Linked DNA regions of Homo sapiens: region 1 is linked to region 2. Evidence: fine-mapped QTL for protein levels in blood plasma. Region 2 holds a variant in brackets. A gene starts in the other region. All regions are shown on their reverse strands.

Region 1 (16,048 bases), not on the chromosome of region 2:
ATATTCTATTATATGGATAGACAAATATTCTATCATATGGATACCACATTTTATCCATCAGTTGATGAATATTTGGGTTGTTTCTATCTCTTGGCTATTATGAATAATGCTGCTATGAATATTTGTGTACAAGTTTTTGTGTGATGTTTTTATTTCTCTTGGCTATATACCTAGGAGTGAAATTGCTAAGTCAAATGGTAACTCTATATTTAAGTTTTTGTTAAAACTCCCAGACTGTTTACCAAAGTGGTTGTGTTATTTTACATTCCCACCAGAAGCATATGAGGATTCTAATTTCTCCACATCATCTTCAACACTGGGTATTATCTCTTTTTTATTATAGCTGTCCTGGTGGGTATGAAACACCCTGGTGGGTATGAAATGCCATCTTATTGTGGTTTTGATTTGCATTTTGCTTATGCCTAAGGATGAGCATCTTTTCATGTGCTTTTTAGCTATTTGTATATCTTTTAAAAAATTTCTATTCAGATCCTTTATTTTTTGATTGGGTTGCTGTAAGAGTTGTTTATATCTTCTAGATACAGTTCATTTGTCAGATACGCGACTTACAAATATTTTCTTTCCTTCTATGAATTGTCTTTCACTTTCTTAACGGTGTTTTTTGAATCACAAAAGTTCTTAATTTTGATTAAGTCCAGTCCAATTTGTTTTTTTTTCTATTGTTATTTGTGCTTTTGGTGTCATAGCTAAGACATCATTTCCTAATCCAAGGCCATAAAGATTTACCCCTGCTTTCTTCTTAGAATTTTATAGTTTCAGCCCTTATAATTTATGTCTTTGATATATTTTAATTTTTCTGAATGGTGTGAGGTCAGGGTCCAGTTTCATTGTTTTGCATGTGAAGATCAATTTCACAATTTACTAAAAAGAGTATTCTTTCCCAGGAAATACTTCTCTTAAGGGCAGAATTTCCAGAGGCAATCCTGTTTTGGTGTCTAATGAGAGACCCACAGGCACAGAAGGGGGACCATTTAATAAGCCTTAGTGTCCAAGTCTGAGTCCTTCCAAGCAAAGCTCACATGCATGCTGGTCTCCTACTTGACCCCATGACAGTACTTCCTAGGCAGTCACTGCACACTGTCTGGCTAAGTGGTGATGACCACCAGGGCTAACATGAAGGGGTAGTGTTCTAGGAGGCGTATGTTTTGGAGAATTAAAACAGTACAGTTCACTATGGCTGTGTGGAGTTTGTTGTGCACATGGGACACCTTGGCGAAGTTGTGGAATAGTCAGTTGGATATAGAAAACCAGAGCTTTGACCAGAGGAGAGATCTGGTCTAGAGAGAGACTCGAGATGTTGGCAAGTAGATGGGAGCAGAGTTGACCTCCACAGAGTGAGTGACAGGACAGGATAACCTGGGATTGGGCCCAAGGAGTTGGATGAGTCACAAGTAGGACTGCAAGGGACTAGCTCAAGAGGTGGAAGGAAAATCAGAGTATTGGCAAGGAAGCCGGGGTAAAGGGAAATTTGAGGAGAGCTCGCCATGGTGTTGAAAGTTGTGAGAGGTCAGGTGAGGTGCAGACTGAAAAGCGTCCATCTGATTATCATGAGGAGGTTGTTGGCAACCTCGGTGAGGGTGGTTTCAGTGGAGCAGTGAAGATGGAAGCCAGACACTGTGATCTGAGCATGAGCTGGATGGGAGCAAAAGCTTGTTAGGTGAAATCTGATAAGAGACAGAGATAGGTCTCAGAAAACCAATAAGAATGATGGTCATTTCTTGGAATTTAAAGAAAATCCAAGATCAAATAAAAAGCTTAGCTGTCTGAGAAAAAAATGTCTGAGGGAAGATGAGCATGCTCATGTCTACCAGATCCAGCTTGCATGTTCAACATCAGACCGACTGCATCATTATCTCAGACATTCCTGCAGAAATGGGTTCTACATGGTGGGGTAATTAATCTCAATTCAGAATAGGCTTTGCTGAAGAATATTTACTGGAGGATAAAGCAATGATTCCTTAAGCTAGTGTTTCTCAGAAGGGCCTATGTAATCACCTGCATCAGAAATCCAGAGTGCCAGCCAGGCATGGTGGCTCACATCTGTAATACCAGCACTTTGGGAGACCGAGGCAGGAGAATCACTTGAGCTCAGGAGTTCAAGAGCAGCCTGAGCAACATAGAACCTATCTCTACAAAAAATTTTAAAATTAGCTGGTGTGGTGGCACTTGCCTGTAGTCCTAGCTACTTTGGAGGCTGAGGCAGGAGGATTACTTACGCCCAGGAAGTCGAGGCTGCAGTGAGCCATGATTACATGCTGCAGTCTAGCTTGGGCAACAGAGCAAGGGACCCAGGGACATACCCTGAACCAGGATTTCATAGTGTAAGCCCCAGTTTTAGTGAACTTCAGTTTGGAAAGACCTGGAAGGCATTTGTCCAATGTACAACTGATGATGTGAATACTTACTAGCCATCCCATTCATGAGATTCTCCAGCCACTTCATGGCATGCGTAGCTGGAGCCAGATTGAGGGCCCCGCCTGCTGGGCAGTTGCTTGGAGCCAGCATCTATAGATGAAGTTAAAAATCTTCCTGGAATAAACAAAGTACAAAGTGGGTCCACTTCTGTCAGAGTAGATAGTGGGGAAGAAAATCTTTACTAACCTCAAACTATCTTCCTTAAATATTTTTCAGAATATCGCAAGGTGGCTGTCAGCTAAGATTTTTAAACAGCATTATGTATGATTCAGTGTTTCTTACTTAGAACTAGTGATTCATTTTGTTATCTAAGTTTTAAATCTTGTGATAATTCTCTCAAGTGTTCTGGTTTGGAAAACTGCCAAAAAAAAAAAACTCAACAACAGAGAAGCCTCCAAACAAAAACCCCAAACCCAAACTCAGAAGTAAGTATAGGCCAGGCGCAGTGCCTTACACTTGTATTCCCAGCATTTTAAGAGGCTGAGGTGGGCAGATCTTAGACCCCAGGAGTTGGAGTCCAGCCTGGATGGATGAAACCCCATCTCTACAAAAAAAATGGGATATGGTGGTGTGTGCCTGTAGTCCCAGCTACTTGGGAGGCTTAGGTGGGAGGATGGCTTGAGCCTGAAGGGCCAAGGCTGCGGTGAGCCGAGATCGCACCACTGCACTCCAGCCTGTCAGCCTGTGACAGAGCGAGACCCTGTCTCCAAAAAAGTAAGAGCTACATGGAAGTAAGACCTGTTTTGCTTAAATTTATCAGAAAATGGACTCTGTCCTGGCCAGCAAAAGTAGTTAAGAAAGATTCTGCTTCAGCCTAAAACAATGACTAGCAGAAAATTAGTTTCACTTCATTCCACTAAATAAATGTGGAACAAAAACTGTGAACTCTAGGTTTCAGGGGGTTCAAAATTATTTGCTTTTCTGGGTTCCTATTGGCCTTGGTTGAGCCTGCAGGTAATCATGACTATTTAGAATTATTGAATTAAATAACTGAATGGAGTTGAGTCCTAAGAAGTACTTATTGAGTACTAATTGAAGACAAAGTTTCTGCCATCATCAAGTTAACAGAGCAAGACAGATATTAAGTAATTAAAATATTATTTTACACTTCTGTTAGGTGAGGGTTGTGTGTTGATGGACTCATGATAAAATATTCTGAATGTGTAGTATGTAACACATAAAGAACATAAAATGCAAGTACTTGAAAAATTGAGAAATTTACCACTCATAGATTTCATTTTGAGTTTTAAAGAATAAAAATAGGCCAGGAGCAGTGGCTCATGCCTGTAATCCCAGCACTTTGGGAGGCCAAGGCAGGCAGATCACCTGAGGTCAGGAGCTCAAGACCAGACTGGCCAACATGGTTAAACCCCGTCTCTACTAAAAATATAAAAAATTAGCCGGGTGTGGTGGTGGGCACCTGTAATCCCAGCTACATGGGAGGCTGAGGCAGGAGAATCACTTGAAACTGGGAGGCGGAGGTTGCAGTGAGCTGAGATTGTGCCATTGCACTCCAGCCTTGGGGACATCAAGACTCCATCTCAAAAAATAAATAAAATAAAATAAAAAAGAATATAAATATTAGAAATGTAACATGCTTTGACTTTTAGGAATAATTCCAAGTTTTCATAACTTTTTTGTCTGGGAGGCTATCTAGACTTTCTTACAAATGTCCATAAATTAATTACTTATTTATGGACATTTGTATTTTCTAGGGATAATATTGGAGGAATGCTTAAAACATTATAGACAAAAGCGTTGAAATGTTTTCACCACCATGAAGCTGTGAGTTGAAAGCATTAGCCCAAGTCCTTTCACTTGTTCAGTTTTGTTTTCTTTTTTTTTTTTTTTTTTGAGATGCAGTCTTGCTCTGTCGGCTAGGCTGGAGTGCAGTGGTGCAATCTCGGCTCAATGCAACCTCCACCTCCCAGGTTCAAATGATTCTCCTGAGTCAGCCTCCTGAGTAGCTGGGATTACAGGCACCTGCCACCACACCTGGCTAATTTTTGCATTTTTAGTAGAGATGAGGTTTCACCATGTTGGACAGGCTGGTCTCAAACTCCTGACCTCAGGTAATCTGCCTGCCTCAGCCTCCCAAAGTGCTGGGATTACAGGTGTGAGCCACTGCGCCTGGCCTTCAGTTGTTTTCATCCTATAAATCATACCTCCTTTGCTTTGGAAAATTAAATCAGTAATATTTATCAATTACATTTTCCTTATTCCTATTATTAGCAAGTCTATTGAACCAGCAATGTCTCACTTTTCATGAAAATGAGTTCCTAAAATGCAGTGGTGGCTACCTGAAACGTGCACATTCTTAACATTTGGATTTAATCTGGAAGGATGTCTAAACCATGTAAGGAATATATGAACAGCTCTCAGAATCTTGTTAACCTGGTATCCCACAGTACAGAAATAGCTTCTGTAATTCAGAAATGCAATAATCACCTGTTAATTTCTCTGATGGGTGGTTTAGGCATTTTCAGTGTTTAATTAACCTAATTCTTTGAGCTGGAAGCTGGGGGCTAGAGATAGCAAGTGATGTACAGAGGAACCCCATTTCGGAACTTGGCCATCTTCCAACAGGAATGGGCTCATGCAGGGATTTCTGCCCTTGGACTTTTTTTTTTTTTTTTTTTTTTTTTTTTACTCGCATAAAGCTGGAAGGAAAAAAATCTGGCAGAGTCTATAGCTGTAGTGAATAGGATGGGATTTGAATCAGAACAGGGTTGCAGTCCCGATTCTGTAGTCAAAGGCTGTGTGACTTAGACAAGAAATAAAACCTCTCTGTGTCCCCATTTTCTGTCTATAAACTGGAATCTACTTTGCAGACATGCTAAATGAGAAAACAGAATTTTAATTGATATACCAACATGTCACGATCATTGTTATTGTTGCTGAAAAACAATGACTATAAATGATACATATGCACTTTATTTTTGAAAAAAAAAAACTCATAAATTTAAAAGCACTTTATTATTTTAAAATTTTCAAAGAAGACCCAAACTTCTTTATGAACAATGCTGTGTGATGAGATGCTTGCCCTTGATTCCAGGAACTGAAACATGTGGCAAGTGGAAGCGATTTGATTTTGTAGAACAAGCACACTTTATTCAGCTAATGGGAGGGCAGAGGTGTGAAGAATGTGAGAAGTGCTTAGCCTCAATAACCTCATTCTTCTAAATGAGTGATGCTGGCTGTGGGACAAAGCAAGAAGGGCCTTTGCTGAACCCACCAGTCCACCAAGGATGTTAACAGCTGGCATGCAACTAGATGGTTTCACTTGCAGGGTCCTCAGGATAAATGAGGTCTATTCCCACAGTGGCTTAGAGCACTCATGAAACCTTCTCATGAAATCTGGAAAGGAGGGAGCCCTTCTAGAGAGTGGGCTGGGCTCTCTTGCTTTCCCTCTGTCAGATGCACACCTGGAGAGGAATGGAAAACACAACCTCAGCTCAGGAGAAGCCAAGAAATGAACATGAGAAGGTCCACAGAAACAGGGCCAAGTGTAACACACCAGACACAGACATGACATTGATGCTCACCTTCAGTGTGGATTCCCAGAGTGACCAAAGTGTGGAAATCAGGAATTGGTCTAAAAGAAGCCTTGACTTGAGAAATCTGGGGGCATTGGCTTTTATTGGTTAATCAAAAACCTCATTTTGATTGGGGAAAAATAAGTTGTTCCTAGGTAAATCCATTCCCTGAATTGTGGGGGGGAAAAAAGGACTTGGTTTGTGTTTGGGGGAAATTTGCTATCGGTTGTTTCTTGCAGACTTTGGAAGGGACCCTTGGATTTCAAAAGCAGGCACAGCCATATTGTGTCTTTCCTCATGTCTTCTGAGTCATTTATGATATCTCATGTGGCTGGTTATCAATGAACTGTGTCATTGCTCAGACATGGCGCCCCTGCTCCGTCTTTTGTGTTTGAGATGGAATCTACATAAATATTTGCTGATCAAGTCTCCTGTGCTAAGTGTTGGGGGTACAAAATATGGAAAGTCTTTGATGTCATGAACCTCACACTCTAGAGATAGTTGGATACACAAAAACTTTTCCACTCTAACTTCTTGTCTTTTCATTGACTCATCTACATTGAAAAATGTAGCAACCTGTTTTGAGATGGATTAGATGTAAGTTAAACTTCTTTTGATACAAAGTCATTTCTTTCCTGGAGTAAAAGTAATGACACTTTTTATGATACCCAGTGGCTCTCGAAGAGCAATAAAAAATGTTAATGGTTAATGTTTGACTGAAGCTGAAGGGAGAGGCTGGGAGGCAAAGCAGGGAAGAGGGAGTGTTCCCGGGGGAGATACTCCAGTCGTAGCAAGAGTCTCGACCACTGAATGGAAGAAAAGGACTTTTAACCACCATTTTGTGACTTACAGAAAGGTAAGGGCTGACATGTCTTAACTGTGTCAGTAACGTATTTATTCCAGAAGGACAAAGTAGATGGAGGGGGAGGGCACTTAAAAAGTTGCTTGACAAATTTGTTCCTTGAGGTGGGCTATGCAGATGCGGAGAAGGGAAATTTGTTGCTGGCATGACAAGTTTTGCTTATGGAGCACAATTTTTTTTTGTAGTTTCTTTTCATTGGTCCATATTTTATAAATTCATTTGATGAAGTGGCTGCAGTGAAATCAAGCTTGGCAGTGGAATTAAAGGGGAAATTGAGTTCTCTGATGTTTAAACAAGTATCACATCCATTCTTTGTGATGAGTATATAAAAGTCCCTGGTCTTAAGATGCTCTAGGGCTCTTGTATTCTAGAAATTGGGGTTGGAATCACATTCTCAAAAAGCATGTCATTCTATCTACTTCTCAGAGAATGAGATTCAATTTGGGATTCTTAGAATTGTCTAGGACACAGCAAGGGAGGGAACATGCAGAGAAGAAGAAAAGTCTTTTTGTAAAAGTACTAGAATAAGAATTGAAGACAGACAGACCTGCCTTCACAAGTGAGAGAAGAGGCTGATGTGCGTGTTAATCAGCTTCCTGGGCTGCTTTTGGCCTTGGTGGTGGAGTTACCACCTGCTAATGTGTGGTTATTTTTATGTTAAGCCACACACAGCTTATTGGTATCTTCAATGGTCCGATATTTGCCTCTGTCTTGGTCTTTTATGACAGGTGACTTTATAGGGACAGATGCCCTCTGTGGTAGGGGATGCCAAGCAGCAGATTGGAAGGACAGTGCCTTCTCTAATATTTTCTTGTCTTTATTTTTCTTCAAAAGCTTAAATAGCAAATGAGGCATTATTTGAAAGAAGAAGAAAAAACACATGTTTAGATGAAAGGAAGATGAATGCTATTCAGCTCTCACCAGGAAACAAAGCGAGTCCTTTACTGAGAGAGGGTTTCTAGTGAGTTACGGGGCCATATGAGTCTTCAGGGTTGGCCAAATGGGTTAGGCCAGTTTCATCATTTTCCAACCTGTGGGCACAGAACAGAGAGCTGCCACTAGAGACTTGCCTAACTAGGTAGTTGTGAGAAGTAAATTAGATAAGTAGGTAAAGAGCTTACTATGTTGCTTGGTGCATGGTACACATCCAGTGAATGTTAGCGCTCTGTTCCATGAGAAAGTTCAAGTAGGTGACTCAGGATGAATTGAGAAATTTTTGTTTCATTCTTTAGAAAAATAAGAAAAAAATCAGTGATGCCATAAAAATAGCATCTACCATTATGCAAGAGAGGAACTAATTCTATGTTCAGGAAGTAGGATTCAAAAATATGAGAATAATAAAACTATTGGTTTTGCTATATATATAGCATTTTAAAGCCCCTCTCATGGTTCCCATATAAGTCTTTGGGTGAGGTGCAGGTGGGGCATCCTTTGAAACTCACCCAGATGACCCCTGAAAAAAGTCATCACTGTTCAAGGTGAAGGTTACATTTCCGGTACCTCCTCCTTTCTCATACAAAAGGCAAAATATGGCTGGGTGTGGTGGGTCATTCCTGTAATTCCAGTACTTTGAGAAGCTGAGGAGGGAGAACCGCTTGTGCTGGAGTTCAAGACCAGCCTGGAAGGTCTGAACATAGGGAGATCCAGACTGTACAAGAAAATTAAAAATTAGCCAGGCATGATGGCACTTACCTATAGTCCTAGCGACTTGGGAGGCTGAGGTGAGAGGATTCCTTAAGCCCAGGAGGTTGAGGCTGCAGTGAGTCATGATTGTGCCACTGCATTCCAGCCTGGGTGACAGAGTGAGAACCTGTCTCAAAAAAAAAAAAAAAAAAAATCTGGATGATGTGCAAAATATATCCTGGCAGAAACTCTACTTCTCGTTCCATTGTCAAAAAAAATGTCTAGAAGGATGTGTCCCTCATTTTTCTTCCACATTAACAGCAACAGCTCTGAGGAGGAAAGCTGGGCATTGTCATGCTCCTTGCTCTGGAGGCCGACAAACAGTGCTTGAACAGAAGCTGGTTCACATGGGTAGAGATGTATAGATTTGACATAAAATTGCATTGATTCAGAAATCTCTGGTATCAGATTTAGAATGGGGCTAGTTGTTCTGTAACTGCTCGTTGATTATCCAAAGAAAGACACACGGAATTTTAAGGGAATACCTATCTACTTATTTGTTACTTGTAAGAACAGACAGGAAGAAGAAGGAATGTTTACTTAGGTACAAGAAATATTAACTTAATAAAAGCAGATATTCCCCTAGTGGCTGAGGTATTAACTACACTAAAGTTGATTTTTTTTTTTCACTTAAGCAATACGTAACAAGCTAAGCTATGCTTGATTTTTGTGTATGTGGTACAAAGAAAATTTCTCTTCAAATATTCTGTAAGACTGACATGGAATTCTCTCATTCATGATATTTCTGAGTTATTCATTTTTGACCATATACTTATTACTTAAAAATATTAGGACTTGTTCTTAAGTGACGGATGAGGAGAATGGAAATGGTAGATTTGTTCCCTTAACATCTAAGCTAAAGATGAGTTCTCTTCCTCACCAAGAGGCCATCTAGCAGAGTGGCTTGGTGCTTGGCCCCTGCATTCACACCACTTCCTCAAGCGCTCTAAGCATCAGTTTCCTGCTCTGTGGGATAACAACAGGACCCACATTATATGATTGTGTTGTTCAAGTAAGTTGTCCAAAGTGTTTAACTTAGCTTGCATTTGTTGAGCATTTGCTATTTTTTAAAACAATTCCAATGATTAAAAAAAAAAACAATTCATGAATGAGATTTCATCGTGGTCTGGCACCTTTTATTAAGCAGAATTAAATTTATTTTCCCTTCCTCTCCTACCCATCCCAGTTGTCAGTTACGATTTAATTACAGAAATTGGAAAGTGAACCTGCCATACTTAAGCATGACTGCACATTCTTGGCATTAAAATTCCTGCCTTGGGTCACTTTGCAAATGAACTGGTATTAGAGTATTTTTCTTTCTCTTCTCTTCTCTTTTCTTTCTTTCTTTCGATCCTTCAGTGTCTAAATCCTATGGGATGGAACCTAATTTAGATTTACTTCCTACTGAATTTCTAAGGCCAGGATGTGTTGCTTTATTATCTTGACAAAATGCTCATCCGTAAACTTTATATTACATAAAGAAATGTTGTGTAATACATAAAGAAACACTTTGTCAAAAAAAAGTCAAGCCACCCTTTATGAGAAATAGTGATTCCAGTCCTCCTCTTTAGTCCAGGGAAGATGCTTGTGATATTGTTCTGCTAGATCTGGGGGAGAAAGGGTCTCCCCCTGCCACCTTCTAGGGTTTTTGCGGGTATATAGCTGCACACGTGAGGGAAGTCAATGCTGAAATTCTTCCTGGCTACCTGCTTAAAACCCATTTATGCCTAGTGTTCCATTATTGGAACACTAAGCATGTGGGAGTTATTTATATCCTTCTGCACAAGGTCATCGTCAAGGTCTGATTGCAAAAATTCAAAAAATTGCAACCTCAGGTATAAATGGGTTACAACATCAGGCAAGTGCCCTGGTGGGACAGTCACTGTTGTCCCTAGGTCAGTGGCTCCCTTTCCTGTGACTGCTCTGGCCCCCCTTCCATTCAATGCTGGGATGTTTTGGGAGACTTGGAGGAGAGGCCTCTTCTCCCCAGCTGATCCTTCCCTTGCTCTGTCTTGGGGAGCACTGGGGGAACAAACGCCAACCAGGAACAACATGACACCTCTCTCAAATATTTCTTGGAACTTGTTATTCTTTTCTTTAATAAGAATAATTATGCTAGTAATCCCATTACTGGGTATATACCCAAAGGATTATAAATCATTCTACTATAAAGACACATGTACACGTGTGTTTATTGCAGCACTATTTACAATAGCAAAGACTTGGAGCCAACCAAAATGCCCATCAATGATAGACTGGATTAAGAAAATGTGGCACATATACACCATGGAATACTATGCAGCCATAAAAAAGAATGATTTCATGTCCTTTTCAGGGACATGGATGAAGCTGGGAACCATCATTCTCAGCAAACTAACACAGGAACAGAAAACCAAACTCTGCATGTTCTCACTCATAAGGGGGAGTTAACAATGAGAACACATGACACAGGGGAACATCACACATCGGGGCCTGTCCTGGGGTGGGAGGCAAGCGGAGGGAGAGTATTAGGACAAATCCCTAATGCATGTGGGGCTAAAACCTAAATGACGGGTTGATGGGTGCAGCAAACCACCATGGCACGTCTATACCTATATAACAAACCTGCATGTTCTGCACATGTATCCCAGAACTTAAAGTAAAATTTTTAAAAAAAGAAAAAGTGAGACAAACATTTTTTAAAAAAAGAATAATTATGCTAGTAATGTGTATTATAATTGATTATATCAATCTAAACCATTTTAAGTTCTCCAGGGGACCATTTAGCCTCCCGTGAGCCCATCTTCCCTATCATGAACCTATTGGTAGAACAAATCATCACCTCTAATTTTGCATGTGTGTAAATCCAGATTTTCATATACTGAAAGATTGGCATATCTATATTACAGAGTTTAGTGACAGAAAGCTGGGCTTATGTTTATGTATGTATGTTCATCCCTCCCTCCCTCCTTTCCTTCCTTCTTCCCTGTCTTCCTCTCTGCTCTAAAAACAAATCATCCAGCTGCCCATTCCCTCCCCATGTGGAGTAATCTGTTTGAAGTGTGAGGCAGAAGCCCAGATTTATACCTGTCTGCTTGTTTCTAGCTTATTAATGGCCACTTTAATTGGGTCCTTAATTTGTCAAAAGTGCAAATTGGTCAGATGCTTCTGCGGTTCTCTAAACCTTGAGTGATGCAATTGGTGCCAGAGATCTGTGAGCCAGACCAAAAAGATGGGCGTGGCAGATCTGAACATTAATCGATGAAAAATGGTTTGGGCGAGATTTTCATCTGATCTTTATATCTATCTGGCCTTGCCTTATAATTTATGCCGCTCTTAGCAATATACAGTGAGGAGGAAAAATAAATGGCTCACAGGATATTTGGCACTGTTTGGTCCTGGTGGTGTTATGAATTCCAGTCACATCCCTTCCTGCCCACACTACCTTAGGATATTTGAAAACAAATTCTGTAGCTCTCTCCTTCTGCAACTTCTTTGTTCTTTGAAGCTTCATGGCTCAGCCTTAGTGCTAGGTGAATTATTTTAATTCAAAGCCCTTCATGCTTTTTAAAAAATAAATAAATAAGAGATGACTGACTCTAAGATTTGTCTATCACTTAGCTTTTTTCACGGGGGACAAAAATCAATGCTTATGTGTTGACTTGTAAATCTGGAGATCTGGGACGTAGAAACTCCTTGTCCTTACTCAAATAAATGGGTAAATGACAAGAGCGTCTAAACATCACCTTCCCATCTTGCAAGATGGTGGGTGAAAAAGTTGAGAAGCCGGATACTAAGGAGAAGAAACCTGAAGCTAACAAGGCTTTGCCAGTGGCAAGGTGAAAAGGGGAACCTCAGAGCTAAAAAGCCCAAGAAGGGGAAGCCCAAAATCCTGTCCTCATTGGAGGAATTGGCAGATATTCCTGATCTGCTATGTATTCCAGAAAGGCCATGTACGAGAGGAGGTACTTAGCTGCTAAACCCAAGATTGAAAAGAATCTCGCAACCGTTACAAACCCAGTTGAGGTGACAAGAATGGTGATGCCTGGCTATTTAAACTTCACAAAATGCCTTGATATTATCCAACAGAGATGTGCCTCAAAAGCTGTCCAGCCATCGCAAGAAACTCTGCAGTCAGCATGTGAGAAAACTTGGAGCCAGCACGGCCCTCGAGACCATTCTGCTCATCCTCCCTTGGTGCCACCAAGGCAGGAGGGTGGTTTTCCTGGAGCAGCTGGGCAGTAGCTTGTTACTTGTGGCTGGACCTCTGGTCTTCCATGGAGTTCCTCTGTGAAGGACACACCAGAAATTTGTCATCACCACCTCCATAAAAATTGATATCAGGACTGGGTGCAGTGGCTCACACCTATAATCCCAGCACTCTGGGAGGTCAAGGTGGGTGGATCACTTGAGGCCAGGAGTTCGAGACCAACCTGGCCAACATGGCGAAACCTCCGTCTCCATTAAAAATACAAAAATTAGCCGGGTATGGTGGCACACACCTGTAATCCCAGCTACTTGAGAGGCTGAGGCATGAGAATCACTTGAACCTGGGAGCTGGAGGTTGCAGTGAGCTGAGATGGCGTCATTGCACTCCAGCCTGGGCATCAGAGCAAGACTGTCTCAAAAAAAAAAAAAAAATCGATACCAGCAGTGTGAGAAACCCAAAACATCTTACCAATGCCTACTTTAAGAAGCAGTTGTGGAAGCCTAGTCAGTAGGAGGGTGAGATCTTTGACAGAAAAAGAGAAATGTAAGACTACAAAGCAGTGCAAGGCTGATCAGAAAACCATGGACTGGCAAATTTTACCAAAACTCAAAGCTATTCCTCAGCTCCAGGGCTACCTGCAATCTGTGTGTGCCCTGGTGAATGGAATTTATCCTCACAAATTGGTGTTCTAAATTTCTTAAGAAGAACCTAATTATGTAACTAAAAAAAAATAAATGAATGCCGTTAATCCCCTTGGGAGCTTGGAGCCTGGTGGGAGAATCAAGGAAGCCTTGGGTGGGCTGCTGGGATGCGGGGGGTCCCTAGGTGTCTAATGACTGAGCAGAGCCCCCTGTGAGGCCACCTCTGTCCTGGGACAGCAGCACAGGCTAAACAAAAGTTCCATGGGGTCTTCATTTGCTAGGGCTGCCTTAACAAAATACCACAGAACGGGAGGCTTAAACAGCAGATATTTACCATCTCAGTTCTGGTGACCAGAAGTCCAAAATCAAGAGGGCAGTAGGGTTGGTTCCTCCTGAGAGCTGTGAAGGAAGGATCTTCTGTGCACCTCTCTCCTTGGCTTGTAGATGGCTGTCTGTACATTCACACAGTGTTCTTTCTTTGTGGATGAGCCTGTCTCCAAATCTCTTCTTAGAAGGACATCAGTCATTGTGGATTAGAGCCCACTCTAACAACCTCATTTTAACTTCGTTACCTCTGTAAAGACTCCAAATAAAGTCACATTCTGAGGTGCTTGGAAGTTAGGACTCCAACATATGCTTTTTGAGGGGGAGGGAGACACAATTCTACCCATAGCATTTGGATTGATTTAAAAAAGGGAAGATTCCTAAGGTGAAGCACAGAAATGAGGAGAAATAGTGAGACACAGAGATACATTTGCAGTAGAAACAAAACTTCCCAGACCAAGGCAGCCTTTTCCTCCAGGCAGGTCGGGGCAGGTCATGTCAGCATCTGAAAAAAAGAGCAGCTGCAAAGTAGGGGGAAAAAACCTTTTCAACATTTTGGAAAGATCTGTAGTGGATTAAATGATACTTGGTGTCTCATCATCAGGATATTTGTGTTTCAGAGGGAGTGAAAATTAGCCTGGCATTGTGACCTTGGGCAAGTCTCTTAATTTCTGTGGTCTTCATCGTTTGATTTTTCATTTCATCTTTAAGAGGTATATTATAATAGCATCTGCTCCATAGAGTTGTTCTGAGAAATCAGCAAGATAGTTTTTCACCACCAAGTCTTATCGGTGCATGCAGCAAATTGTTTTCAGTCAATGTTTGCTGCCTTTGTCGTTATCCGGGCTGGATGCAGATCCAGGCCGCGGCGGGATTCCCATGTCTTCTGTTGTGTGGTAGATTAAAATGAGGCACTGTTCCTGCAGAGCAAGCCCAGCAGCCCTGGTTCCCGTCTGCAAGCAGGTGCCCTGGTCTACTGTTGAGCAAGTGGTGGTCATGGTGGTGCCCATTGGGTGAGGGGCAGCCACAGTTTGGGAACCGAGGCCTTCTTTTCAAAACTCCTTTTTTTGTAAAAAAAAAAAAAAAAAAAAAAAAAAAAAAACAAAAGATAATAATAATAACCCTCTGATCTATGTTGCAAAGGGTGTGCTTGGTCTCTCAAATAATTGCTGTAGTAACTGTCTGAATTTAGTCCTTGTATCTGAGGGAAATCCTGACAAACGGCAAAAATTCCACGCAGACGGTTGGCCAATTATTACAGGTAGTTCAGATAAAATGCCACAGAATCCTCTGGAAATCTATTTCAATTCTTTTCCAAGTAGTGTTTTTGAGGAAACCTAGGTGTCTGGCTTGGTGGTTTCGGGCAATTTCAGTGATGAAGGATGGCTTCCCATCAGCACCATTGCGACCCAGGGTACCCCACACTTGAATGGTATTGTGTCCATGGAAGGAGGAAGTGTAGGTGGGACCTGTTTGAGAGACCAAAGTCCTCTTTTGACATAATCCTAGCACTAGTGTAGTTTGCCTTGAATCATTCGGGTAAAGGCTTTGCCTTGCTGCCTCATTTGGCTGTGAGGATGTTCCTGTGTAGGCTGTTTTTAGAATATTTTCATTAGTGGGCCACCAAAAGTTGGGAATTGTGAAGAGAAATGTCCTGTTGGACAATGTTTACAGTTTTGACTAAGCAAACGTGAGTGGCAAAATGAATTTTTGGCCAACAGTATTCCAAATATTAACTCGCTGAATCTCTTAACTCTCGAAGGTAGGTATTATTATTATTATCCCTGCTTTATAGATGAGTAGATAGGGCCACGAGTCAGCCGGTGGAGGAGTTAAGACCCAAGCCAGCCAGTCTAACTCCTGGGTCTATGCTCCTAACAACCGCATGGTGTGGTAGATTTGTCTTCAAATAAATCATGGCACCCTACGTGTGGCAATGGAAAGCAGTGACTTCTACTTCCCACTGGAAACCCTCGGTGAGGGGCAGGCCTAAATGTAAATGACAAAATAAAGGATAAGTACATTTCTCCTTCTACTTCCTAGGTTCCATTGAAACATCCCAGACAGTGATCTCTCTGAGCATCTGACCAAAATAAGGCATTCCTTTTATTTTTATTTGCTTTTCTATCATTTAACTTGTGTTTTTCTGGAAGACTGAAGGTGTTAAAAAAAAAAAAATTAGTTCAAGAAGAGATGATCTAGTTCGACCAGTTCTGGGTTATTTACTGAGCAGAAATCTGTTAGTGTATTCAAAGGAGAAACAACTCTTTTCATCAACAATAAAAATGTATTACACAATAAAGCTTTGAATGTTGAATGAGTTTCCTTTAATATATCATGTTTATTGAAAGCTCTTACAGGTGAGAACAAATTAATA
Region 2 (16,048 bases):
TGAATGTTGATGTGAGGTCTGTTGCTGTAGTCAGGAAACCGGTAGAGCCCACAGAATGGTGGGTGATAGTTGTTGGTGTTGTGAAAGGGATGTCTGTACTCAGAGAAGATGGGGTCATGGTTGTGGAAGTCACCATAGTACCTGAGGTAGGGGGAAGTGAGGAGATGGCAGTTGTGGATGTGCTGACTGTGGAGTAGATGGTTGATGAAGAGAAGCTGGGAGTACTGTGGGAGGAGATCTCAGTGGTGGTGGTTACCAAGTTTGTCATAGGAGTCGTGGCTGTTTCTGTGGTTGGGAGAGAGGAAGAGGTGGGTGGGAGAGAAGTCTCTGTGGACAATGTACCTGTCATACTTGTGGAGTAGGCGATTTTGGTAGTGGAGTCTGTGACAGTGCTGGTGGGAGAAGTAGTGTAGGTGGTCTCAGATGTAGGTGTAGACCTGCTGATGGTAGTGGGGAGTGTGGTCACCAAGGTGGATAGGGGGGTGGTGTTTGTGATACCACTGGTGATTGTTTCTGTGCTCAGGACAGGTGTGGAAGATAAAATGGTCCTAGTGGGTGATGACAATGTATTAGTGGCTGTGGGCTGGGAGGCGGTCGTTGTCATAGAAGTCACTGTATTTGTGGAAGTGATTGAAGAAGTGATGGGGGAAGTGGAAGTCACTGCTGTTTTGAGAGTAGTAAATACTGGGGTTGGGGACGTGGTTGTATGGATGCTTCCAGTGGGCAGGGGAGTCCTTTCTGTGGTTCTAGTTGTAGACGAGATTGTAGTGTGGAAGGTTGTGTCTGTGGCTGACACAGAGGAGGGTGTCACTGTCACTATGGGAGTTTCCCTTGCAGTGGTGGTAGAGGGAGAAGATGTCATGGCTGACGTTCCTTTCTCAGTAGTGGTCATAGAGTAAGTACTGGTGACGGTGGTCACTGGCTTCTGTGTCACGGGAGTCGAGGTGTAAGAGCTGGTGAAGGCCACCTGCGTCGTGGTCACACAGATGGAGGTGGGGTGGGAGATGGTGATTATAAAGCTCGTTGGATACACGCACTCAGTGGTGGCTGAATAGACCAACACGGTGGGTGGAGTGGTTTCAACCTTGAAGGCAAACTTGGACGTCGGGGTGGTTGAGGTGTTGGAACTGACTGGAGAGTTGAGCAATGTTTCAGAGATGAGTGTGTCATGGGGGGAGGTAGTGAGTGTCATAGGTGCATTTTCCCTGTGGCCAGGAGCAGGAGAGGCGAGCTGGGGGACACCAAGTGGCCACCCAGCCAGGTCTCTGGAGTGTGGAGAATTGCTGAGCACAGCGCTGGCTGCTTCTGCTCTGGGGAAAGGCACTTGAGAGATGGATGTGGCCGTGGATAAAGTTCCTGCATTGGCGGCAGAGCAGAGGAATCCACTGGTAAATCCGTGGGTCATTTTGTTACATCACTCATGTAAGCTACTCACTCACCCATTTTCCAGGCAGCATCACAGAGGGCAGGGCATATTACAGCTGACTCCTGCATCAGAGGCAGCTTGGAGCTGGGTGCTTTGTGGTGCTGGAGACGACTGCCTGTCTGCTCCTAGGGGAGCAGTGGGGCATGGGAGCCCTCATTCCTCACCGGGCCTTGGCCTTGTCATGGCAGGTCCTCCTGTCCTGATATAGCCGAGCTGGGCAGAGCCTCCCTCCCCTCCCTTCCCTCCTCTGGTCACACCCAGGCTCCTCCTCCCTCTGCCCCTTCCTCTCCTCCCCCTGCTACTGCCTGGAGTGCTCCCATCCCCCCATTAACCTTCTGCTCCCACCACTGCTTCTCCCGGCACCCTGCTGCTGTCTGGGCTGACTCCGCTTTCAAAGAGAAAAAGAGAGAACCCAGCCATGTCCTGGCAGGGGGCGCATCACAAAAACCAGGAGACAGGGAAAGCTGAACAAAGAGGGCCAGGCACGGTGGCTCATGCCTGTAATCCCAGCACTTTGAAAGGCCAAGGCAGGAGATCACTTGAGGTCAGGAGTTCGAGACCAGTCTGACCAACATGGTGAAACCCTTTCTCTACTAAAACAAAATACAAAAATTAGCCAGGCGTAGTGGCGTGTACCTGTAGCTGAGGCAGGAGAATCGCTTGAACCCAGGAAGCAGAGGCTGCAGTGAGCTGAGATGGTGCCACTGCACTCCAGCCTGGGTGACAGAGCAAGACTCCATCAAAAACAAAAACAAAAACAAAAACAAAAAACTGCCCAGAGAACACCAAAGAGAAACAGGCTAAGCTCACACACTAATGACTTCAAAGGGCATGGAGTGAGGACTAGGTGAAGAGGCAGAGAGACAGCATAGAAAAGGAAACTTCCAGAAGGAGCTACCTCAGCAGTCAGGCGTGATGAGTTCTGGAGACCTTAAGGCTTAGCAGTGAGTGTTCATCACACAAATAGACATATTTTTCTATACTATTCCCTTTTGGCCGTGGGATTCATTAGTTTACAAGCATGAACCCCAGCATGTGGATTTCAACCCATTTCACAATTTGTCAGAGTTAGGATCAGAGATCCGGCTGTCGGGGGTGTCAGGGACAAGGAAGACAGGCAGCCACAGCAGATGGGAAGTGGGAGGTACCCGACCTGCTACCCCTCACCTCGGGCACAGCCCATCTTGTGGCTGAGAGCTGGGGTGTCACGTCTCAACCTAGCTCGTGGGTGCCAGGGAAGTGGGGTCAGGGATTATGAGAATCCCCAGGCTACAGCCCTTGGCTCCAGGATGTGGCCCTGGAGGTGACTGAGAAGGGGACTCATGGGCCTGTAGGCTGGGTGGCCTGGGATCGGGGATCAGAAGCAGACACTGAAGTACAGAGAAAAGAGAAGTATAGAGGAATTGCGAGGTGTTCCTGCAGGGCAGAAGAGAGAAGCCTGGGACCCCACGACGGGTAGTCTCAGACGCACCCTTGGAAGCGAAGTGGACATCAGGAGCTCCCTGCCCCGGCCCTGGTACCAACAGCTGTACCCAGACACATGGGCCCTGGCCGGGGTAAGAGAGTGACGGCAGAGCTGGGGAGGAGCCGCCGGGGGACAAAAGGCAGAGAGGCTGAAACCAGAGGACCGAGACCAGGGGTAGAAGTTAGAGGGCTGTCAGGGAGGGAGAGGCCAGTGTGAAGGGGACACTCAAGCTGGGGGCGTGAGGCAGGTGACAGAAGGAGTCAAGACAGGAAGGGCACTGCTCTGGGAAGACGTAAATCCCACCCTCTACCCTCCAGCTGCAGATACAGATTGGGGCTCAGCCGCTGCAACCTGCTCAGTGCTTGGTGGAGAGTGGCAGAGACCCAGCTCCCTCACTCTTTCCCAACCTCGGTTTTCCCTGCACCTGGAGCTCTGGAAGAAACCTCTCCTCACCGCCCCCTCCCCCAGTCAGGCCGTGCCTCGGTTCTCCCTGCACCCAGAGCCCCAAGCGGTGCCTTCTTATCCCCCCTCCCCAGGCCTTACAGCCACTTTTCCCTCCCCTTTCCTGGAACATCACATCAGGAGCTTTTCTCCAACCCCCTTCCGCCTCTCCCCCTTACCTGTGGCCCACGGGGAGGCCTTGAGCATCCAGAGGAGGCCGAGGAGCCCCAACAGCTGCATGGGCCCAGCGGGCAGGGGGCTGGGGCAGAACAGGCTTCAGGACCAAGACAGCGGCAGGGACGTGGCCCTGGGGCGTGCACGTAATGAAAGTGCTGGTTATCGGTTTTGCTGAGCGTCAGGGCTGAGCACAGCCTCACCTTTGCACCGCCCCACCTCTCCCCTCTTCCTCCCTTCTCCCTGCACCCGGACAGACAGACGTCAGCGCTGTGGGAAGCGGGACACGGGGGAAAAAGATAGGACAAGTCCAGGAAGTGTCAGGCAGGAAGAGCTGCTATTGGCTCAGCCCCACAGCCTGCCTGGCCCACATGGAACTGCCTGGAAGCTGCCCTTCCTCCCCGACACCCGTGGAGGGTACCCTTGACCGAGGGCTTGGACTCTGGAGTCTGGTCCTACTCCTGCAGCCTCTCCTGAGTTTCAATTCCTCCTGCTGGGGAGACAGTGGCACCTCGCTCTCCTTCAAGCCCCTTCTGTCCCTCAGTCTGCCCCTGCTCCATCCTGTCCCCCGCAGGACCCCATAGGCCAGAAAAAACCGTGGGAGTAATTAACACAGAATTCCATCTGAAGTCATTTTATTATCTGAAGAGTTGGGGCTAGGTCCCAGAAAAGGAAACATGGATGACCAAAGGAAACACTCAAAAATACTAGTCTGGGCCCGGCGCGGTGGCTCACGCCTGTATTCCCAGCACTTTGCAAGGCTGAGGGGTGTGGATCACTTGAGGTCACGAGTTCGAGACCAGCCTGGGCAAAATGGCAAAACCCCATCTCTACTAATAGGCTGAGGCAGAAAAATCGCTTGAA[A/C]CCAGAAGGTGGAGGGTGCAGTGAGCCAAGAGCACACCACTACACTCCAGCCTGAGCAACAGAGCGAGACTCCATCTCAAAAAAAAAAAAAAAAAAAAAAAACTGGTTTGGACCCAGCACATTGTTTGACCTATCCAGTTTGGGCAAAGGTGTGAAGAATAAACGTTCTTACCCAGCTGGTGGATGTGTAGGTGGGTTGGGTTGTTTTAAAAGAGTAATTTGAGGATCACTTGAGGTCAGGGGTTCGAGACTAGACTGGCCAACATAGTGAAACCCCATCTCTACTAAAAATACAAAAATTAGCCTGGCGTGGGGTGGGCACCTGTAATCCCACCTACTTGGGAGGCTGAGGCAGGAGAATTGCTTGAACCCCAGAGGCAGAGGTTGCAATGAGCTGAGATCGTGCCTCTGCACTCCAGCCTGGGCAACAGAGCGACACTTCATTTCAAAAACAAGATAAAGTAAAACAAATGTTCTTATCCAGCTGGTGGGTGTGTAGGTGGGTTGGGTTGCTTTAAAGGGGTAATTTGGTGGCATCTATTAAAATTTTAAATGAGTGCCTTAGGACCCAGCAATTTCACCCTCCATCTCTGTGTCCAAGAAACCCTTCAAGGCAGCATTCATGAGGATGTTTATTGACTCTCGATTATGGCAATTTTGATGGAAATTGGAAACAGCCCAAACGATTGTTTCAACCCAGAAAGAAGATGGAATAGTCACCCTACAGAACACTGTGCTCAGGCCAGATTCAGTGGCTTACGCCTGTAATTCCAGCACTTTGGGAGGCCGGGGCAGGAGGATCTCTTGAGCCCAAATGTTCCAGGCCAGCCTGGGCAACATGCCAAGACCCCATCTCTACCAAAAAAAAAAAAAAAACACAAAAAAAATTAGCCAGGCATAGTGGTGTGCCCCTGTGGTCTCAGCTACTTGGTAGGCCAAGATGGGAGGATCACCTGAGCCCAGGAGGTCAAGGCTCCAAAGAGTCATGATCGAGCCACTGCACTCCAGCCTAGGTGACAAAGCAAAAACCTGTCTCAAAAAAAAAAAATTATGAATATAAAATTAGGTCAGGGCCAGGCACAGTGGCTCACATCTGTCATCCCAGCACTTTGGGAGGCCGAGGTGGGCGGATCACTTGATGTCAGGAGTTTGAGACAAGCCTGACCAACATGGCGAAACCCCGTCTCTACTAAAAATACAAAGATTAGCCGGGCATGATAGTGCACTCCTGTAATCCCAGCTACTCAGGAGGCTGAGGCAGGAGAATTGCTTGAACCCAGGGGGTGAGGGTTGTAGTAAGCCAAGATCCCGCCACTGCACTCTGGCCTAGGTGACAGAGTGAGACTCCGTCTCAAAAAAAAATTATAAAATAAAATTAGGTCAGACCAGGCACAGTAGCTCACACCTGTAATCCCAACACTTTGGGAGATCAAGGCGGGATAATCACTTGAGGCTAGGAGCTCAAGACCACCCTGGGCAATATAGCGAGACCCATCTCTACAAAAAAAAAAAAAAGATAAAAAGAAAAATAGATCTAAATAGGTCTGACCATCCCTAAGGGAAGAAGCTTTGCGGAGAGAAACTGCAGCTCTTCCTCTTCCCAGCAGGCCCAAGGGACAGGATTGCAAAGGCAGCCAGCGAACTCTCTGAGGCCAGGCCCGCTGGGAGATCTTCGTGAGGGGCTGTGCCTCTCATGTCTCCTGGGGGACCTTGTCCTTATCGAGAGTCACTGAAGGGACCCTAAATAAGAGGCGCTGTGCATACCCACCAAGTGACACTGCCTGCGCATCGGTTGTGCAAATGGCTGCACCAAAATCCAGGGGACACATTGTATAGCCCTGGCCTCAGTGTGTGTGGTCAAGTTGAGGAAGTGAGCAAAGAAATGAAAAGCTAAAGAGTCCAAATGAGGTGGAGCTCAGAGCCCGACAATGACACCACTGGGGGTAACTCAGGGGAGGGGCCAACAGGGAGCAGGGCTACTCTTGGGGTCTTCCACTTCAATTTCTTAATACATTTGATCAAGTTGCCCAGCATGAAGATACTCGTTTGCAAAAAGTTTTGTTGTTGTTTTTCAGAGCAGTCTCTGTGGAAACTGCTGAGCCACATGGTCAAGCACCACAGCCAGCCAAGACGCTGCAAACCAAGCTGGAGGTTTCGGGGGTTTCCAGTCTTTTTTTTTTTTTTTTTTAAGTATCAAACACCATAAAATTCCCATCACTGTTCTGGAGACACAGACGTAAATGGAAAATGGATTCCTGTTGTAAGTAAAGATCACCAGGCTCCTGGGGAGATGGATCCCAGATCTACCCCCATCCACCACCCCTTCTGTCCATCACCTCTCTAATACCCACACCCCCTTCTGCTCCAGCCACCAGACCCCCAACCTCAGCCTCTGCTCCACTCCAGGCCCTTGCCTGAGCCATTCCTACACCTGCAGTGCCCTCCTGCTCCTCCGCTTTCTCTCACCTGTGAAAATCCCACCTTTCCTTTACAGTTCTACACCTTCCTCACCTCCTCCAGGAAGTCATGTGCAATCAGGAAGTGACCTTTTCCAGTCCTGGAATTTTTTTTGTTTTTTGTTTTTTTTGAGGTGGAGTCTCACTCCGTCGTCCAGGCTGAAGTGCAATGGAGTGATCCCGGCTCACTGCAACCTCTGCCTATGGGTTCAGGAGAGTCTCCTGCCTCAACCTCCCAAGTAGCAGGGGTTACAGGCATATGTGCCACCATACCTGGCTAATTTTTTTGTGTATTTTTAGTAAAGATGGGGTTTCACCATATTGGCCAGGCTGGTCTCAAACTCCTGCCCTCCAGTAATCCTCCCACCTTGGCCTCCCAAAGTGCTGTGATTACAGGTGTGAGCCACCACATCTGGCCCACTCCTGAAATTAATGGTGCTCATTACTGAAATCTCTCCCATGATGCAAACTTACTATCTCCTAGCTGGGAGCACAGTCATTTGAACGCCTGCCCAGAAGGGAGAGGGAAAGGTGACATCTTTGCATTCTGAATGGGGACAAGTGGCCACTTTCCCTGCAGAGCCTGGGTAGGAGCCCCGCCCCACTCAGGGAGGTGATGGATGAGCTAAGACTGCAGGAATCCTCTGTCTGCGGTTTGAGAATGCCCCATGCCCACATTGGGGTCCAGCTTTCGTGGGGAAGCTGGAGAAGATGGAAGAGAAAAGAGTGTTCTATTGGGGTTGGGAGACATGGCTGTAATGTCAGATGCTGCTGACTGTAGGCTGCCCACACACAACTGAGACTGGGAGCTGGCTCCAGAAATTAATCAGATTCCAGCCAGAGCTCAAGACAGGCAAGAGGATTGCTGGGGAGAAGGAAGGAGCAGAGCTGTGGGAAGACTATGCTGACGATGGCAGTGTCGGCCCAATCATCAGTGACACTTGCCATCGGGTCCCTTCCTAGTGACACTGAAATGGAATGCACAGGAAGTCAGTGGGGGGCACTGGTCTCCCTCCAAGGTCACTTTTGTCACAGGTACCTGGGGGAAGACGTGAATCCAGAAACGTACAGGCCGGGACCAGCCCCCAAATATCAAGGATTAGGGAGGGACATGTTGAAACTAGGGCTATGGGCTGGACACAGTAGCTCACGCCTGTAATTCCAGTACTTTGGGAGGTCTAGCTGGACAGATCACCTGAGGTCAGGAGTGTGAGACCAGCCTGGCCAACATAGAGAAACCCCGTCTCTACTAAAAATACAAAAATTAGCTGAACAGGGTGACGCACCTGTGTAGTCCCAGTTACTAGGGAGGCTCTGGGACAAGAATCGCTTGAACCCAGGAGGTGGAGGCTGCAGTGAGCCAAGATCATGCCACTGCACTCCAGCCTGGGCAACAGAATGAGACTGTCTCAAAAAAAAAAAAAAGGAAACTAGGGCTGGGGAATAGGTCAGTCTTTCTCCCAGGAGGAGTGAGTGAGGCAGGAGGAGGTTGGGAAGGTTGGCCACTGTGTGATTATGTGAATTGCAGCTACAGTTGTCCCGATAATATCAGCTGATGGGAGTCCAGGGACCCACAAGAGTTGTCTCTGAAGTCATGGTGGCTAGGGTAGGGGGAATCAGCTTGCTTGATGGGTAGATGACAAGCTGATACTTGGCTTTAAGAGTAAAGTTCCTCGGCTGGGAGAAGTGGCTTACGCCTATAATCCCAGCACTTTGGGAGGCCGAGGTGGGTAGATCACCTGAGGTCAGGAGTTCGAGACCAGCCTGACCAACATGGTGAACCCTATCTCTACTAAAATATAAAAATTAGCCAGGCGTGGTGGCAGGCGCCTGTAATCTCAGCTACTCAGGAGGCTGAGGCAGGAGAATCACTTGAACCCAGGAGGTAGAGGTTGCATTGAGCCAAGATCATGCCACTGTGCTCCAACCTGTACAAGACGGAGCAAAACTCCATCTCAAAAAAAAAAAAAGCAAAAAAGGGTAAAGTCTCTCAAAGCCAGCGAGTTTGGTGTAGCAGTCAGAAAGTGTCAGGTTATGCTGCAGTAACAAACAGTCCTAAAGGCTATATGGCTTACAACAGCAAAGGTGTATTTCTTGCTCATGCCGCTTGCCCATTTCAATGTCTGTGCTCTCATCCATGCCATGTTCACTCTGGGACCTGGGCTGGCCAAACCACCCCCGTCTGGGACATTGCCAGTCTCATGGTGGTAGAGGGTGACAGATGGCAAAACCACCAGCTGGCTCTTGAAGCTTCTTTCCAGAGACGATGTGCGTCCCTTCCACCCAAATTTTATTGGCCAAAGCAAGTCACAAGGTCGCCCTGGATATAAAATACTATCAGAGAGAGGCACTGCCAGTCAGACATCAAGCGTGATATCAGCGAGACAGGGAGGTATGATCTACCCAAGGGAGAGAAAGCAAATATTTTCAACAATAACACAATCTACCACAGCTGGGATCCCAGCAGGGGTATGGTTTATGCAAATCAAGATCCCATCAAGCAGGATCAGACCCCTGGTGGGGCCTTGTGTGCCACACAAAGAGATCTCGCCACTGCACTCCAGCCCAGGTGGGCGACAGAGTGAGACTGTGTCTCAAAAAATAAAAATAAATAAAATTTAAAAACCACCTAAAAATTCCAAAGGAAAATTTAGGAGACTATATGTATAATTTGGGAGCTGAGGAGACTATTTTAATCAAAACAAGAAAGCTGAAAGCTGTAAAAATAAAATTACACATATCCTACTACATTAAAAAGTAACATTTTGTGGGGGAAAGTTATCAAAACAATACAAAGTAGTGGCAGAATTGTTTGCAATCTGAATGACAGACAAAGGGTTAATATATGTAATATACAAACAGCATTTACAAATGTATATTTTAAAAACACACTGTTCAACCTGATATTCATGGACATTGTATATTAAATGCCTCTTAAGATACTTTCAGGATCACAGTATAATTTTATTGGGTTTTGGAGTCCTATAGTATGTTTATGATACTGGAATCATAGGCAAAATGTTTTTCAATAAATTTTTTCAAACTTCTGTTTTCGGCCAAGCATGGTGGCTCACGTCTGTAATTCCAGCACTTTGGGAGGCCGAGATGGGTGGATCACTTGAAGTCAGGAGTTCAAGACCAGCCTGGTCAATATGGCGAAACCCCCGTCTCTACTAAAAATACAAGAATTAGCCAGGTATGGGGGGTGCACGCCTGTAATCCCAGCTACTTGGTAGGCTAAGGCAGGATAATCCCTTGAACCCTAGAGGCAGAAGCTGCAGTGAGCCCAGATCGTGCCACTGCACTCCAGCCTGGGCAACAGAGTGAGACTCCATCCCAAAAAAAGAAAAAATCTCATGTTTTCATGTGAAGTTTGTTCCATGTGAAGTTTATTTTTCTTCAATCAGTTTCTCTCTTTCCTTCTCTTTCTGTCCTTCCTTGCCTGTTTCATGCGAGCATCATTATTCCTAAGATAAAATCAAATGCTTAATTCACACTTGCACAAAATCTCCAGAAACCTAAGGTCACACAGGGACATTTCAGAAAGCAGCCAGTACTATTTTTCACGTTCTTTTTGGCAGTTTCATTTATGGCCGCTGCTTTAATGCAGTTTTGAAGAATTCATCACACCCTTTATGATTGAATGCAAACACCCAAGCTTGAGAAGAGAAGGAAGAGAGGGAGAGAGCAAGAGCCTGCCAGTTTCTGTTTGCAATATGCTATCGTTTCTGATTCTAAGGAGGAAAAATAACCTCATAAATTTAAATATGGAACATATCCTCTTAGAAAGAATGCTCACATTAAGAGTAATAAATGTCAACATTTATGGATTTATGGGGTTTTAAAAACAACTCAAAGCTTGTGCAAACATTTCTCATATGGTCATTGTTTTCCGAGGATTGCGTAAACGGAAGCCCAGGTCAGCTTGAGGATTTTTCTGGAGGTTCAGCGAAGTCATATCAAATCAGGGAAATGGGATCTTGCCTTTCTCTGATTAATTTAATTTCTTCTGTCTCCTCTTGTCTTCTTCCTAGAGTCTGGTGCATCTGAAAGTTCTGTGAACACTAGCCTGCCACATTCAGTGGATCTGGAGGCAACTATCGCCCTCCTATAAATACCAAGGGTGCCACTGGCCTGCTCCTTACACCAGACAGTAAACAGTCACCAAGAGCCTGATTGAAGCTTTGGGACAAAACAATGAAACCAAAAGATGGATTTGCTGAGTAGCGGAGACCGTAAACTGCTACTCTCAGTTTATTTATTTATTTATTTTTAATTTTTTTTTTTTTTTGAGATGGAGTCTCACTCTGCCGCCCAGGCTGGAGTGCAGTGGTGTAATCTCAGCTCACTGCAGCCTCCGCTTCCCAGGTTCCATCAATTCTCCTGCCTCAGCCTCCCGAGTAGCTGAGATTACAGGCCCATGCCACCACGACCTGCTAATTTTTGTATTTTAAACCATGTTGGCCTGGCTGGTCTTGAACTCCTGACCTCAGGTGACCCAACTGCCTCAGCCTCCCAAAGTGCTGGGATTACAGGAGTGAGCCACTGCACCCAGCCGTCTCTGTGTTTTAAAAAATAAAATAATAATAAATACATTATTTTTAGGCCAGGTGCAGTGACTCATGCCTGTAATCCCAGCACTTTAGGAGGCCAAGGTGAGTGGATCACTTGAAGTCAGGAGTTCAAGACCAGCCTGGCCAACATGGCGAAACGCGGTCTCTACTAAAAATACAAAAAAAAAATTAGCTAGGTGTAGTGGCTCACACCTGTAATCCCAGCTACTTGGGAGGCTGAGGCAGAAGAATTGCTTGAACCCAGGAGGCAGAGGTTGCAGTGAGCTGAGATTGTGCCATTGCACTTCAGCCTGGGAAACGGAGGAAGACTCTATCTCAAAAAATAAATAAATAAAATAAAAAATAAATATATTATTGTTAAAACTGGTTTTCCACCATTGGTGATCTTAAAGTGTGTGCTTAAAACTTTTATTTTAATGATATTATTCTTGAATTGCAAGCCCAGATATCTATAGCATGATTGGTCTTAGTGAATTTATTGAGGTGTACGTTTTATTTAAAAGTATGTGGTGGCTCACGCCTGTCATCCCAGCACTTTGGGAAGCTGAAGAGGGTGGATCACAAGGTCAGGAGATCAAGAACATCCTGGCTAACGTGGTGAAACCCCATCTCTACTAAAAATACAAAAAATTAGCCAGACGTGATGGCAGGCGCCTGTAGTCCCAGCTACTCAGGAGGCTGAGGCAGGAGAATGGCATGAGCCCGGGAGGCAGAGCTGGCAGTGAGCCGAGATTGCACCACTGCACTCTAGCCTGGGTGACAGAGCAAGACTCCATCTCAAAAAAAGAAAATGAATAAAAAGACAAGAAAATGTGGCACATATATACCATGGAATACTATGCAGCCATAAAAAAGGATGAGTTCATGTCCTTTGCAGGGACATGGATGAAGCTGGAAACCATCATTCTTAGCAAACTATCGCAAGGACAGAAAGCCAAACACTGCATGTTCCCACTCATAGGTGGGAATTGAACAATGAGAACACTTGGTCACAGGGCAGGAACATCGCACACTGGACTTTGTTGGGGGCTGGCGGGCTGGGGGAGGGATGGCATTAGGAGAAATACCTAATGTAAATGACGAGTTGATGGGTGCAGCAAACCAGCATGGCACATGTATACCTATGTAACAAACCTTCATGTTGTGCACATGTATCCTAGAATTTAAAGTATAATAAAAAAAATCATACCACGGTCTTTCCTATAGAAAGATCTAAGCTTGCTAATATGACTGAATTGCTTTACTATTGAATTCCAGCAAACACTTAAGGAAGAAATCATACCAACTGTACACAAACTCTTTCAGAAAATGGAACACTTCCCAACTTTGTTTATGAGCCCAGCATTATTCTGATACCAAACCAAGACAAATACATTACAAGAAAACTAGACCGATAGCCCTAATGAATATAGACACAAAAATCCTCAAGGAAATATTATGAAATAAAACATAGCAATACATAAAAATAATGCATCATGACCAAGTGGGGTTAATCCCAGGGATACAAAGCTGGTTAAACATTTGAAAATGAATCAATGTAATTTCTTATGTCAACAGTCTAAAGATGAGAAACCACATGATCATTTCCATAGATGCAGGAAAAGCATTTGACAAAATCTGACGTCCATTACTGATAAAAGCTCTCCGAAAACTAGTAAATAGAAGGAACTTCCTCAACCTATTAAAGGACAGCTACAAAAAAGAAAAAAAAAATCAGCAAAGTATCTTAGTCTGTTCAGGCTGCTGCAACAAAATACTGTAAACTGGGTAGTTTATAAACAACAGACATTTATTCTCATAGTTCTAGAGGCTGGGAAGTCCAAGATCAAGGCAGATTTTGTGTCTAGTGAGATCCTGCTTTCTGGCTTATAGACAGTTCCTTCTTTCTGTGTCTTCACATGGTAGAAGGGCAAGGGTCTTTCTAGGTCTCCTTTTTTTTTTTTTTTTTTTTTTTTTCCTGAGACAGAGTCTCACTGTGTCACCCAGGCAGGCTTGGGGCTCACTGCGACCTCTTCCTCCCAGGATCAATGATTCTCCTGCCTCAGCCTCCCAAGTAGCTGGGACTACAGTCATGTGCCACCATGCCCTGCTAGTTTTTGTACTTTTAGTAGAGATGTATTTCACCATGTTGGCCAGGCTGGTCTCGAACTCCTGACCTCAAGTGATCCACCTACCTCAGCCTCCCGAAGTGCTGGGATTATGGGTATGACCTTATCTGGCCTCTGGGTCTCTTTCATAAGGGCACTAATCCCATTCATGAGGGCTCCACCACCATGGCCTAATCACCTCCTGATATGGTTTGGGTCTGTGTCCCCACCCAAATCTCATGTTAAAATGTAATCCCCAGTGCTGGAGGTGGGGCCTGGTGAGAGGTGATTGGATCATGGAGGTGAATCCTTCATAAATGGTTTAACACCATCCCCTTGGTGCTATTCTTGTGGTAGAGTTTTCATGAGCTCTGGTTGTTTAAAAGTGTGTGGCACCTCCCCACTCTCTCTCTTCCTCCTGCTCTGGCTGTGTGAAGACACCTGCTCAGGCTTTGCCTTCTGCCATGAGTAAAAGCTCCCTGAGGCCTCCCCAGCCATGCTTCCTGCATGGCCTGCAGAACCCTAAGCCAATTAAACATATATATGACCCAGTCTCAGTTCCTTCTTTTTTTTTTTTTTTTTTTTTGAGACAGAGTCTTGCTCTGTCATCCAGGCTGGAGTGCAGTGGTGCGATCTTGGCTCACTGCAACCTCCACCTCCCGGGTTCAAGTGATTCTCCTGCCTCAGCCTCCCGAGTAGCTGGGATTACAGGTGTGTGTCACCACTGCCAGCTAATTTTTGCATTTTTTAGTAGAGAGGGGTTTCACCATGTTTGCCAGGCTGGTCTCGAACTTCTGGCCTCAAGTGATTCACCCACCTCGGACTCCCGAAGTGTCAGTTATTTCTTTATAACAATGTGAGAACAGACTAAAACACCTCCTAAAGGCCCCACCTCCTGATATCATCACCTTGGGGGTTAAGATGGCAACATATATGGATTTCGGGGAGCCACAAACATTCAGACCATGGCACTAAGTACATCTATAAAGCTAAGGTCATTAATAGGTTTTTTTTATATGTTTATTTGTTTATTTTGAAACGGAGTCTCGCTCTGTCACCAGCCTGCAGTGCAGTGGCACAATCTCACCTCACTGCAACCTCTGCCTCCCAGATTCAAGTGATTCTCCTTCCTCAGCCTCCCAAGTAGCTGGGATTACAGGTACATGCCACCACACCCAGCTAATTTTGGTATTTTTAGTAGAGATGGGGTTTCACCATGTTGTCCAGGATGGTCTCGATCTCCTGACCTGGTGATCTGCCCACCTCGGCCTCCAAAAGTGCTGGGATTACAGGTGTGAGCCACCATACCCGGCCAATCATTAATAGGTTTTGGAGGGCGATTCTTTGTTATGTCAAGACGAATCTTTCAGCTGGGCACAGTGGCTCACACTTGTAATCCTAACACTTTGGGAGACGGGAGGATCACTTGAGCCCAGGAGTTCAAGACCAGCCTGGGCAACATAGTGAGACACTGTTTTAAAAAAAAAAAATCACTGTGATTAAATGCAGCAGTGCAGAATTGCTTTTGGTTTACTATTTTGACAAGAGCCATCCACTGGTCTCATCCTAACATTTCTTATTCTATAGGTTAGGAAGTCAGTGTGGGAATTCTGCAGGGTGGTGAGGATATTAATCTCAATTTTACACTTAGATATTAGGAAAGTGACCATAGGAAGTTTGTGGGCACAGGGGCCTATAGTGAGGCAAAGTCAGGGTATAACTACATTTATCAGGGCTTTTGTTAAAAAGTCAAGAAAGGTCGGGCATGGTGGCTGACACCCATAATCCCAGCACTTTGGGAGGCTGACGCTGGCAGATCACTCGAGGTCAGGAGTTTGAGACCAGCCTGGCCCCCGTCTCTACTAAAAACACAAAAAAATTAGTCGGGCATGGTGGCACACACCTGTAATCCTGGCTACCCGGAAGGCTGAGTCAGGAGAATCACTTGAACCCGGGAAGCAGAGGTTGCAGTGAGCTGAGATGGCCCCACTGCACTCCAGCCTGGGCGACAGAGTGCGACTCCACCTCAAAAAAAAAAAAAAAAAAAAAAGTCAAAAAAAAAGACCAGGTATAGTGGCTCATGCCTGAAATCTCAGCACTTTGGGAGGCAGAGGCTAGAGGATCCCTTGAGGTCAGAAGTTGGAGACCGGCCTGGGCAACATAGTGAGACCTCATCTCTACCAAAAAAAAAAAAATTTTAAATTATCTGTGTGTGTTGGTGTAGTGTGTGCCTATAGTCACAGCTACTAAGGAAGCTGAGGCAGGAGGATTGCTTGAGCCCAGGAGTCTGAGACTGCAGTGAGCCATGATCATGCCACTCCACTCCAGCCTGGGTGGCAGAGCAAGACTTTCCTCATATATTTAAAAAAAAAAAAACAGATGGCAGCAAGGCTGTGGAGAAAAGGGAACACTCATTCACTGTTGGTCAGAATGTAAATTGTTCAGCCATTACGAAGAGCAGTTCGGATATTTCTCAAAGAACTATGAGTCGAAGTACCAACCAACCCAGCAACCCCACTACTGGGTAACTATCCCCCCAAAAAATAAATTGTTCTACCAAA

Alleles and levels. Alleles are on the strand shown, and positions count from the first base shown. The strength of an association depends on the size of the effect and on how common the allele is.
With allele C in place of A in region 2, the plasma level of the protein whose gene starts at base 6,756 in region 1 is lower (strong association).

Evidence for each region. PIP is the chance, under the fine-mapping model, that this variant and not a neighbour inherited with it causes the effect. The UK Biobank Pharma Proteomics Project read protein levels with antibody pairs (Olink). The fine-mapping took linkage between variants from a reference panel, not from the people measured, so its PIPs are less certain.
Region 1: CDH17 starts here. The variant in region 2 is fine-mapped to the plasma level of the CDH17 protein (UK Biobank, PIP above 0.99).

What each region holds. Positions count from the first base shown.
Region 1 is chr8:94,199,263-94,215,310 of GRCh38, reverse strand. It overlaps CDH17 (cadherin 17), which reads left to right and starts at 6,756. Exons shown (of 18, transcript NM_004063.4): 1 at 6,756-6,828. It also overlaps the pseudogene RPL6P23. RefSeq lists an enhancer at 8,030-9,229.
Region 2 is chr7:100,937,149-100,953,196 of GRCh38, reverse strand. MUC3A (mucin 3A, cell surface associated) reads right to left here and starts at 3,663. Exons shown (of 12, transcript NM_005960.2): 1 at 3,512-3,663; 2 at 1-1,356. The coding sequence starts at 3,572. LOC105375431 (a long non-coding RNA gene) reads left to right here. Exons shown (of 3, transcript XR_007060457.1): 2 at 6,446-6,630; 3 at 10,861-11,138. RefSeq lists enhancers at 1,571-2,116, 2,167-3,145, 3,146-4,124, 9,047-9,596. The variant A/C (reference allele first, on the strand shown) is at 4,371.